Linked DNA regions of Homo sapiens: region 1 is linked to region 2. The links come from fine-mapping of genetic effects on gene expression. Tissue or cell type: nasal epithelium. Region 2 holds a variant in brackets; the other region holds the start of a gene. All regions are shown on one strand. Distances are between the middles of the regions.

What was found. PIP is the estimated chance that this variant, and not a neighbour inherited with it, causes the effect.
Region 1: CEP70 starts here. The variant in region 2 is fine-mapped to the expression of CEP70 in nasal epithelium (TOPMed, PIP 0.94).

What each region holds. Positions count from the first base shown.
Region 1 is chr3:138,592,341-138,596,503 of GRCh38, forward strand. It overlaps CEP70 (centrosomal protein 70), which reads right to left and starts at 1,920. Exons shown (of 18, transcript NM_024491.4): 1 at 1,858-1,920. RefSeq lists an enhancer at 2,125-2,184.
Region 2 is chr3:138,540,699-138,544,861 of GRCh38, forward strand. All of the region lies in intron 6 of CEP70 (centrosomal protein 70), which reads right to left. Among named protein-coding and RNA genes, the nearest start is that of CEP70, 51 kb to the right of the region's middle. The variant G/A (reference allele first, on the strand shown) is at 1,993.

The sequences.
Region 1 (4,163 bases), 52 kb after region 2:
GCACCTGTGACCAAGCCCTCCTTTTCAGAGGACCATTCTGTGAAATAAACGGGCCAATAGTTTGCAGCAGCCTTTTCCCCACTACAGGCTGTGACAGGACAAAGGTCTGGAACTTTAAAGTCACAGGAAGAGACCAAATGCTTTCTAGGGCCAAAACAGAAGCTACAGCTTTAATTACTGTCATAACACACTTAAAATAAGATTGTTGGGGGTAGGAGTCGGGGGGTAGGAGTCGGAGGGTAGGAGTTGATTTGTACATGGCATAGTAAGCCAAGCATAGAAAAGCAAAAACATAATTGCATCTTCTGGCACTTTCTAGGTTTCCCGAGTCTTTCAGCCAAATTGCCCTTTATAGGTCTGAAGCCCCTTGTAACATGCTCCATATCTTAAAATTTAATTATTTTTTTCACCATTTGGGGTGGGGGAGGGGAGCTGACAATAAACCATGGCCAATAACTGTTCCTTCTCAACTGAATCACACCAAAATCTGTAAGCATCTTCAAAAGTATATACTTCAAATTACTGCAATAAATGAACATGTAACCCTTTCGAAGTCTCTATTCCTTATTAAATGCAAAAGCTCTATTCTAAAAATATTGCAACTTGCTGTTTAATGTTCCTAAGAAAGAGCTGAACTTACCCCAAATAGGAAAGAGTTAAAATGGAATGTCATCTCAACCAAATCATTCTGTCTCAGGAGAGGTGACATGAAGGGGCAGAACCTTGCTTTGAAGCAAAAGCTGTAGGGAAAACTCCAAGTCAGCCACCTCTTCCCCAAAAGGCGGGGCAGGGGAGGCCAGAGTCTACTTGGCAATATTTAAAGTACAAAACTCATGCAGAGGCTTGAAACCAATATGGGTAATGCCTGCACAGAGTTTAATATATTATACATATATTTTTGAGACAGAGTCTCGCTCCGTCACCCAGGCTGGAGTGCAGTGGCGCGATCTCGGCTCACAGCAACCTCCGCCTCCCGAGTTCAAGCGATTCTGCTGCCTCACCCGCCCGAGTAGCTGGGATTACAGGCGCACACCACCATGCCCAGCTAATTTTTGTATTTTTAGTAGAGACGTGGTTTCATCATGTTGGCCAGGGTGGTCTCGAACTCCTGACCTCAGGGGATCCGCCCACCTCGGCCTCCCAAAGTGCTGAGATTACAGGCGTAAGCCACTGCGCCCTGCCTGTTTAATATCATTGATTGAAAAACAAAGTGGCAGTAAAAAAGGAAACTCTGATTGGTCTCTCTGTTACAGGTGACTTAGCCTTCTGGCATTTTTCACCTTGAAAAACTCCTATTAGGCCCTGTATAAAGTCAGAGGTCTCCTGAATCCGGAATGAGGTTAATAAACTGGAGAAAGAGATACTCACCTGTGCTATTCGCCTAACCGCCCCCTTCTGCTCCGAGTCCTCACTCCCCAAACAACCTTCGCGGTTGTTTGACACAAAACTAGCGCTTCAGCCCGGGTCGATTTTGGGGGATGGAGTAATTACCTACAGCTTAAATCGAGTCTGTGCCCGACGTGATTCTAAGCTTTACTCTTACTGCCTCATTTAACCCTCACAACCACCTTGTAAGGCAAGAATTACCAGCTTTAGTATACAAATAAAGAATCGGAGGCGCTGAGACATTAAAGGAGAAGCCAAAGAACACAAAGCCTGGGGAGCTGGGACTGGAGGCAGTTTTGTCCGATCCCCAAACCCTTACGCAGGGATTTTTAATTGGCGCGACCCTGTCCCAGATGGCTCCTCCCCGACAAGGGTCAGTCTGACCACTTTTAGGCCCAGGTGAGGTCAAGTCCGGGGTACTCCGGGAAGGGGCTCACGCCGACGCCTCTGAGAGCCCCGAGAGCCACTCACCTTACTCAGTCGCCGGCCTCCCACCAGCAGCCAGCCGGGCCAGGTTAGGCTGGGATCAGCTACGTCAGGCCCCGCCTCCGCGACCGTTACCACCGCCGGGGGAGGGCGGCCAATCGAGCCCGAGCGCGTCGAGGGCCAGCCCCTCTTTGGCCTGCGAATGCCCCCAAACGATTCTCTCCAGCCTCTCCGGGAAGCTGGGTCCGCCCCGCTCCCTCCGGTTGGCTCACTACGGGGGGCGGGGCTTACCGCAAACGAAGGCGTCGGTGCGATGTGCTGGTCTCGGGCACGCTGGCGCTTCCAACGCACTCCTTGGGTGCCCTGTCACTTACATGGAGGCTTATTTGCCCGGAAGACGTCAGAAATACTTGTGGCCGTGGGTGAAAGTGAAGCCTGGGTTACCTGGCCACCAGAGACTGCCCTCTCTCTCGCCCCCTACCCCGCCGCGACTACGAGCCCTTGCTGGGGTACGGGTCAGCATGTTCTCGATGTTCCAGACCTGAATGACCACTGTAGCAGCTGACATTTGGAGGACCCCAATAAATATTTGTTGACGACAGTTCATCTTCCCATTCAGCATTTTCCACATCTCGACGAAGCGTCAGGCCCTACCTGAGGCTGTAGCTGTCCACCATTGTCATTGTATCTTATAGCCACATGGTGTCGCTGTTGACAACTTGTCTTTTCAAATCAGTCAAATGATGTAGGTCTGTGTTACAGTCAAATGTTGCAACAGACTGTGTTGCAGTCAAATGATGCAGGTCCCACAGTAGCCAACAGGGATGTCCCATCTAGGGCATCAGCCAAGGGTCTCTCATCAGGAGATCCAAGGGCTCTTGGAGCTCAATACTTTCAGACCCTTCTTAGCCTTCTTCCAGGCAGCTGGGACTACACTTAGGTTTGATCTCTGTGTTTGCCCCATGCAAACATGTCCCTACCCCAACCTACGCCTACCCACTGTGCTTTCCATACCTGGATATTCACTCTAACGACGGTTAGCAGATTGCATTTTCAGTTCTCAAAATGCAAATAGTCTCAGTGCTTCCCTTTTCCAAGATAATAGGGTGCCCTTGCATACTCTTCTGAGAATGGCTGCCCTAATTGTAGAGGCCAAACATCTTTGAGTCAGTTATTATTATTTTGGATGCACGTGATATAGAATCTGAGTTAAACTGTCTTCCTAAAAAATAAAGAAGTTGCTTATCTCGCATAACAGAAAGCTCAGAGGCAAGGGAGACTTTGATTAATTCAGTGGCTAAGCAAGTTAACAAGGACCCAGTTGCTATTAGTCTCTGCTTTGTTGTAAAAAAAAAAAAGGGTAGACTTCAAATTCATACTAACGTGATTTTCCAGATGTCTACTTGGAGAAATCAGGACCACATACTTTCTTTTTCATCTAAAACCTTTCCTTCTGGTTTTTTGAGCCAATAAGTTCACACAGGCACACACTCTTCCTCTTTACCAGTAACTGCCTGGGAAATGTACAGACAGCTTAAGCCTGGGTTCCAGAAGTGAAAAGGAGCTATGACAATTGGAATTGGCAATGGTGTCAGTGCTCTTTGAGTCACATGAGTTGCAAGGTGGAGACATGGCTATTTGAATAAAACTGGAGACCTGTAAAGGAGAAGAGGAAAATGGATGCTAGATGGATGATCACCAGTATCTTTCACAGTCTTCAAAGCACAAGAAGGCTGATTCCTCTCTATTTTCTAACTGAATTTTTTATGTGGTGAATGGAGGGGAAGAGTTGCTATAGCACTGCCCTCCAAAACAATTCCCTTCTTATGGACCATGAAAGCCTTTCCAGCACCTCTCTTTGCTAGAGAAGGAAAACATCCCTGCACACAAACTTAGTCTTTCACTGAGAATCCTGCTACATTGGTCTCAAGAGTTTTCTATGGGCCTCATCTACCCAATAGAATTCTAATAATTCTAAACATTCATTTAACATTCATTCATTTATAAAAATGTGTTGGCCGGGCACAGTGGCTCACGCCTGTAATCCCAGCACTTTGGGAGGCCAAGGTAGGTGGATCACCTGAGGTCAGGAGTTCGACAACAGCCTAGCCAACATGGGGAAACCCCATCTCTACTAAAAATACAAAATTGGCCGGGTGTGGTGGCACATGCCTGTAATCCCAGCTACTTAGGAGGCTGAGGCAGGAGAATCGCTTGAACCCGGGAGGCGGAGGTTGCGGTGAGCCGAGATCTCACCATTGCACTCTAGCCTGGGCAACAAGAGCAAAACTCCGTCTCAAAAAAAAAAAAATTTTTTTGTTAAGCACCTGTTTTGTACCAGGGATTGAACT
Region 2 (4,163 bases):
AGCTAAAAGCAGAACTACCATTTGACCCAGCAATCTCATTATTGGGTATATACCCAGAGGAATACAAATCATTCTACCATAAAGAAACATGCATGAATGTTCACTGCAGCACTATTCACAACAGCAAAAACATGGAATCAACTGAAATACTCATCAATGGTAGACTGGATAAAGAAAATGTGGTACATATACACCATAGAATACTACATAGCCATAAAAAAGAACAAGATCATGTCTTTTGCGAGAACATGGATGGAGCTGAACGGCATTATCCTTAGCAAACTAATGCAGAACAGAAAACCAAATACTACTTGTTCTCACTTATAAGTGGGAGCTAAATGATGAGAACTTATGAACACAAAGAAGGTAACAACAGACACTGGGGTGGAGGGTGGGAGAAGGAAGAGAAGGAGAAAAGATAACTATTGGGTACTGGGCTTAATGCCTGGGTGATGAAATAATCTGTATAACAAACCCCAATGAAACAAGTTTACCTACGTAACAAACCTTCACATTTACCCAAATCTAAAAGTTTAATAAATAAGTACATTCTCAAAGTCAAGCACAAAGAGAAGATCCTAAAAGCATCAAGAGAAAAGAAGAAAACAAAATATAAAGGAGCTCTGATTTATCTGGCAATAGAATCCTCAGCAGAAAGCATATTGGCCAGGAGGGAGTGAAATAACATATTCAACGTGGTGCTGAAAGAAAAAGAAAAAGAAAAAGAAAAAGAAAAAAAAAAACCTGTCAACCAAGAATATTATTCTCAGCAAAGCTATCTTTGAAATACAAAGGAGATAAAGCCTTTACCAGGACAAGCAAACACTTGAAAGGGACTCATAAGAAATGCTAAAGGGAGTTCTTCACTATGAAAGAGAAGGACACCACATGCAAAAACAAAAAAACATTTGAAGGTATAAAACCCATTGGTAAAAGTGAATATACAGACAAACGCAGAATACTCTAATAATATAATTGTGGTGTGTAATCCAGTCATATCTCTAGTATGAATACTAAAAGACAAATCTACTTAAAACAGTAGGCTAGGCACAGTGGCTCATGCCTATAATCCCAGCACTTTGGGAGGCAGAGGCAGGCAGATTGCTTGAGCTCAGGAATTTGAGACCAGCCAGGGCAATATGGCAAAGCCCCATCTCTACCAAAAATACAAAAAGTTAGCTGAGTGTCGTAGCATGCACCTATGATCCCAGCTACTTGAGAGGCTGAGGTGGGAGCATCACAAGATCCTCAGTGTGTCGCTTCACCAGCCAGAAACCTCTGTGGCCAGTGGTACCTCTGCTTGAGTTTTGCTCACACCTGCTGGGCTTATTCTGCCCACTCGGCCTGGCAGGCTGCACTCAGCTTGTGCTACCAGCCCAGACCCCATGCCTGCTAAGGGCAAGCCAGGTGCAGAGCAGTGAGGGGTGTGTGAGTTAGCAAATGTGGGGTCTGGCTATGTGCACAGCCAGGCACACTGGCTGTTGCAGTGAGGCAGGCAGCTCCAGCCACCAGCACAGGCACTGGCTCCATGTGAGACTGTGGCTGGACCAGATGTACTGCAAGCAGCTTCCGCTGTGGGCACCAATGCCTGGACAAGGGGAATGCAGGGGCGCCTGAAAGCTCAGAGATGCCAGGAACCACAGAGGCCCAAAGAGGGTGTTAGAGTGTGTCAGAGCCCTGGCTCTGGGAGCCCTGAGGTTTGGGATCCCAGAAGAGTCACAACTCTTCTCTCCTTGTCACCCGCAGCGCAGCAAGTCGGGGGATGTGTTTCAGGTGGCACATGTTTCAGCCCATTTGTGTTACAGCTGTTTCAGTCCCACCACCCTGCTCTGGCCAGTGGCTCCTGGGCTGGCCTGGCCCCACAGCTGCTTCCCATTGCATGGCGCAGCCACCAGGTGCCAGTGGAGGGTGGGAGGCCTATGATGTGACAGCACCTCTGGCTCAGAAATCCTGAGGTCTGGGCCCCTAGAAAGGTCACCACTCTTCACTCAC[G/A]CAGTTTGTCTTTGTCACCACGCACAGCCCGGCGAGTCGGCCAGGAACGTGTTACAGCTCCTTTCACTCCCGCCATTCAGTGAGTCCCAAGTTCTTGTCCTGTGTCCAGGAAGAATGAGGTTACACAGACAACTGGAAGGTGAGCAAGGTGGGGAGAAGCCTTATTGAGTGACAGAACAACTCTCAGTAGAGAGGAGACCCTAAGTGGGCAGCTCCTATCCACAGTCAGGTAGTCCCAATGAGTTGATGAGTCCCTGAGTCTAGCTGAGCCTTGGGTTTTTACGGGCTCAGAAGGGAGGAAGTATGTGCTGACTGGTCCATGGACAGCCATGGGAAGGCCTGGAAAAAGCATCATCCAATTGGCCAAAAGGCATGAAGGAAGTTCTCACTCCAGGTTGCGGACTCCACCTGGCACTGGCAGCCTGGCCTCCAGGCTTCAGGCTGTCCTTGGCTTGAAGGTGAGGTTTCACTGAGGACCTGCCCCTTCTGCCTAGGAACCTGTCTACCTCTCACCACCATCAACATGCCATCTGCAGTGCCCAGGCTGTCTGCACTGCAGGACACTCACAGGCCCATGCCAAGCTGCCCTCAACCTCCCAGCCTCCCTTCTGCGCTCGTCGGCATCCAAAGTCTTGGGGGAACCAAGGCAGTAGGGGGCTGGCATGTCAGCACTGCCCCGAGTGTACACACACCTGACTGGGTCATGACAGCACCCGTGCTCAGCCACAACTTCACTCTACACCAGAGTGGGTACTGGGAGTGAAGAGAGGCCAGGCAGTGGGAGCAAGTACTTCCAAGCCTGAGGGGGCAGGGGGCTTTCCAGGCCCATAAGAGCGCAGGGATGCCCAAGTCCCAAGCTGTGGCTGGGCAGATGCAGCTGTGCCTGGGAGCACAGGGTCCCCACTGGGATCACCTGTTCCTAGCCCCTGACAGCTCCATGGAGCACGCAGCCCTGCCTGCACCTCCTCCACTGCTGGCTTCCTTACAGCAGCTGCTTCAGATTTGTTGCCACCTCTATCAGGAGGATAGCTTGAGCCTGGGAAGTGGAGGTTGCAGTGAACTGAGATTGCACCACTGCAATCCAACCTGGGTGACAGAGTGAGACCCTATCTCAAAAAAAAGAAAAAACAAAAACAAAAAGCTCCCCCTCAAAATAACTACAGCAACTTGTTAAGGTATAGATAATGTAAAAAGATGTAAACTGAGACAACAAAAAGTCATAATATGATGGAGTAAAAGTGTAGAATGTTTTAGTTTTTCCTTTGTTTGTTTCTATTATTTGTGATCAAGGCAAGATATCTATTTAAAGTAACCTGTTGTCCAGGCACAGGCTCATGCCTGTAATCTCCACACTTTCGGAGGCTAAAGCAGGAGAATTGCTTGAGGCCAGGAGTTCAAGACCAACCTGGCCGACACAGTAAAATCCCCATCTCTTTTAAAAACTCCTTAACTTAAAAAATAACTTGTTATATCTATAAAATGTTTTTTTGTAAATCTCATGGTAACTACAAAGCAAAAATAAAACAGGTACACTAAAAAAAAAGCAAAAAATTAAAACAACCAAAAAAGAAGAAAATCACTTGACCACAAAGGAAGACAGTAAAAAAGGAAGAAAACACAATGAGATATCATCTCACTCCAGTTAGAATGGCTATTACTCAAAAGACAAAAAAAAAAAAAGTACTGGTGAGGATATAGAGAAAGAGGAATCCTGGTACACTATAGGTGGGAATGAAAACTAGTACAACTACTATGGAAAACAGTATGGAGGTTCCTCAAAAAACTAAACCATATGATCCAGCAAACCCACTACAGAGTGTGTATGTATGTATGTATGTATGTATGTATGTGTGTGTGTGTGTATATATATACACACATATTATATATATAAACATATTGAAGAGGTATCTGTACTCTCTTGTTTATTGCAGCACTATTCACAACAGCCAAAATATGAATTCAACCTAGGTGTCCATCAATGGATGACTGGAAAAAGAAAATGTGGTATGTGTACACAAATGGAATATTATTCAGCCATAAAAAGGAATGAAATCCTGTCACATGCAGCTACATGGATGAAAATGGAGGTCATTACGTTAAATGAAATAAGCCAGGCCCTGAAAGACAACTATTGCACATTCTCACTTAAATGTGGAAACCAAAAAAGCAGA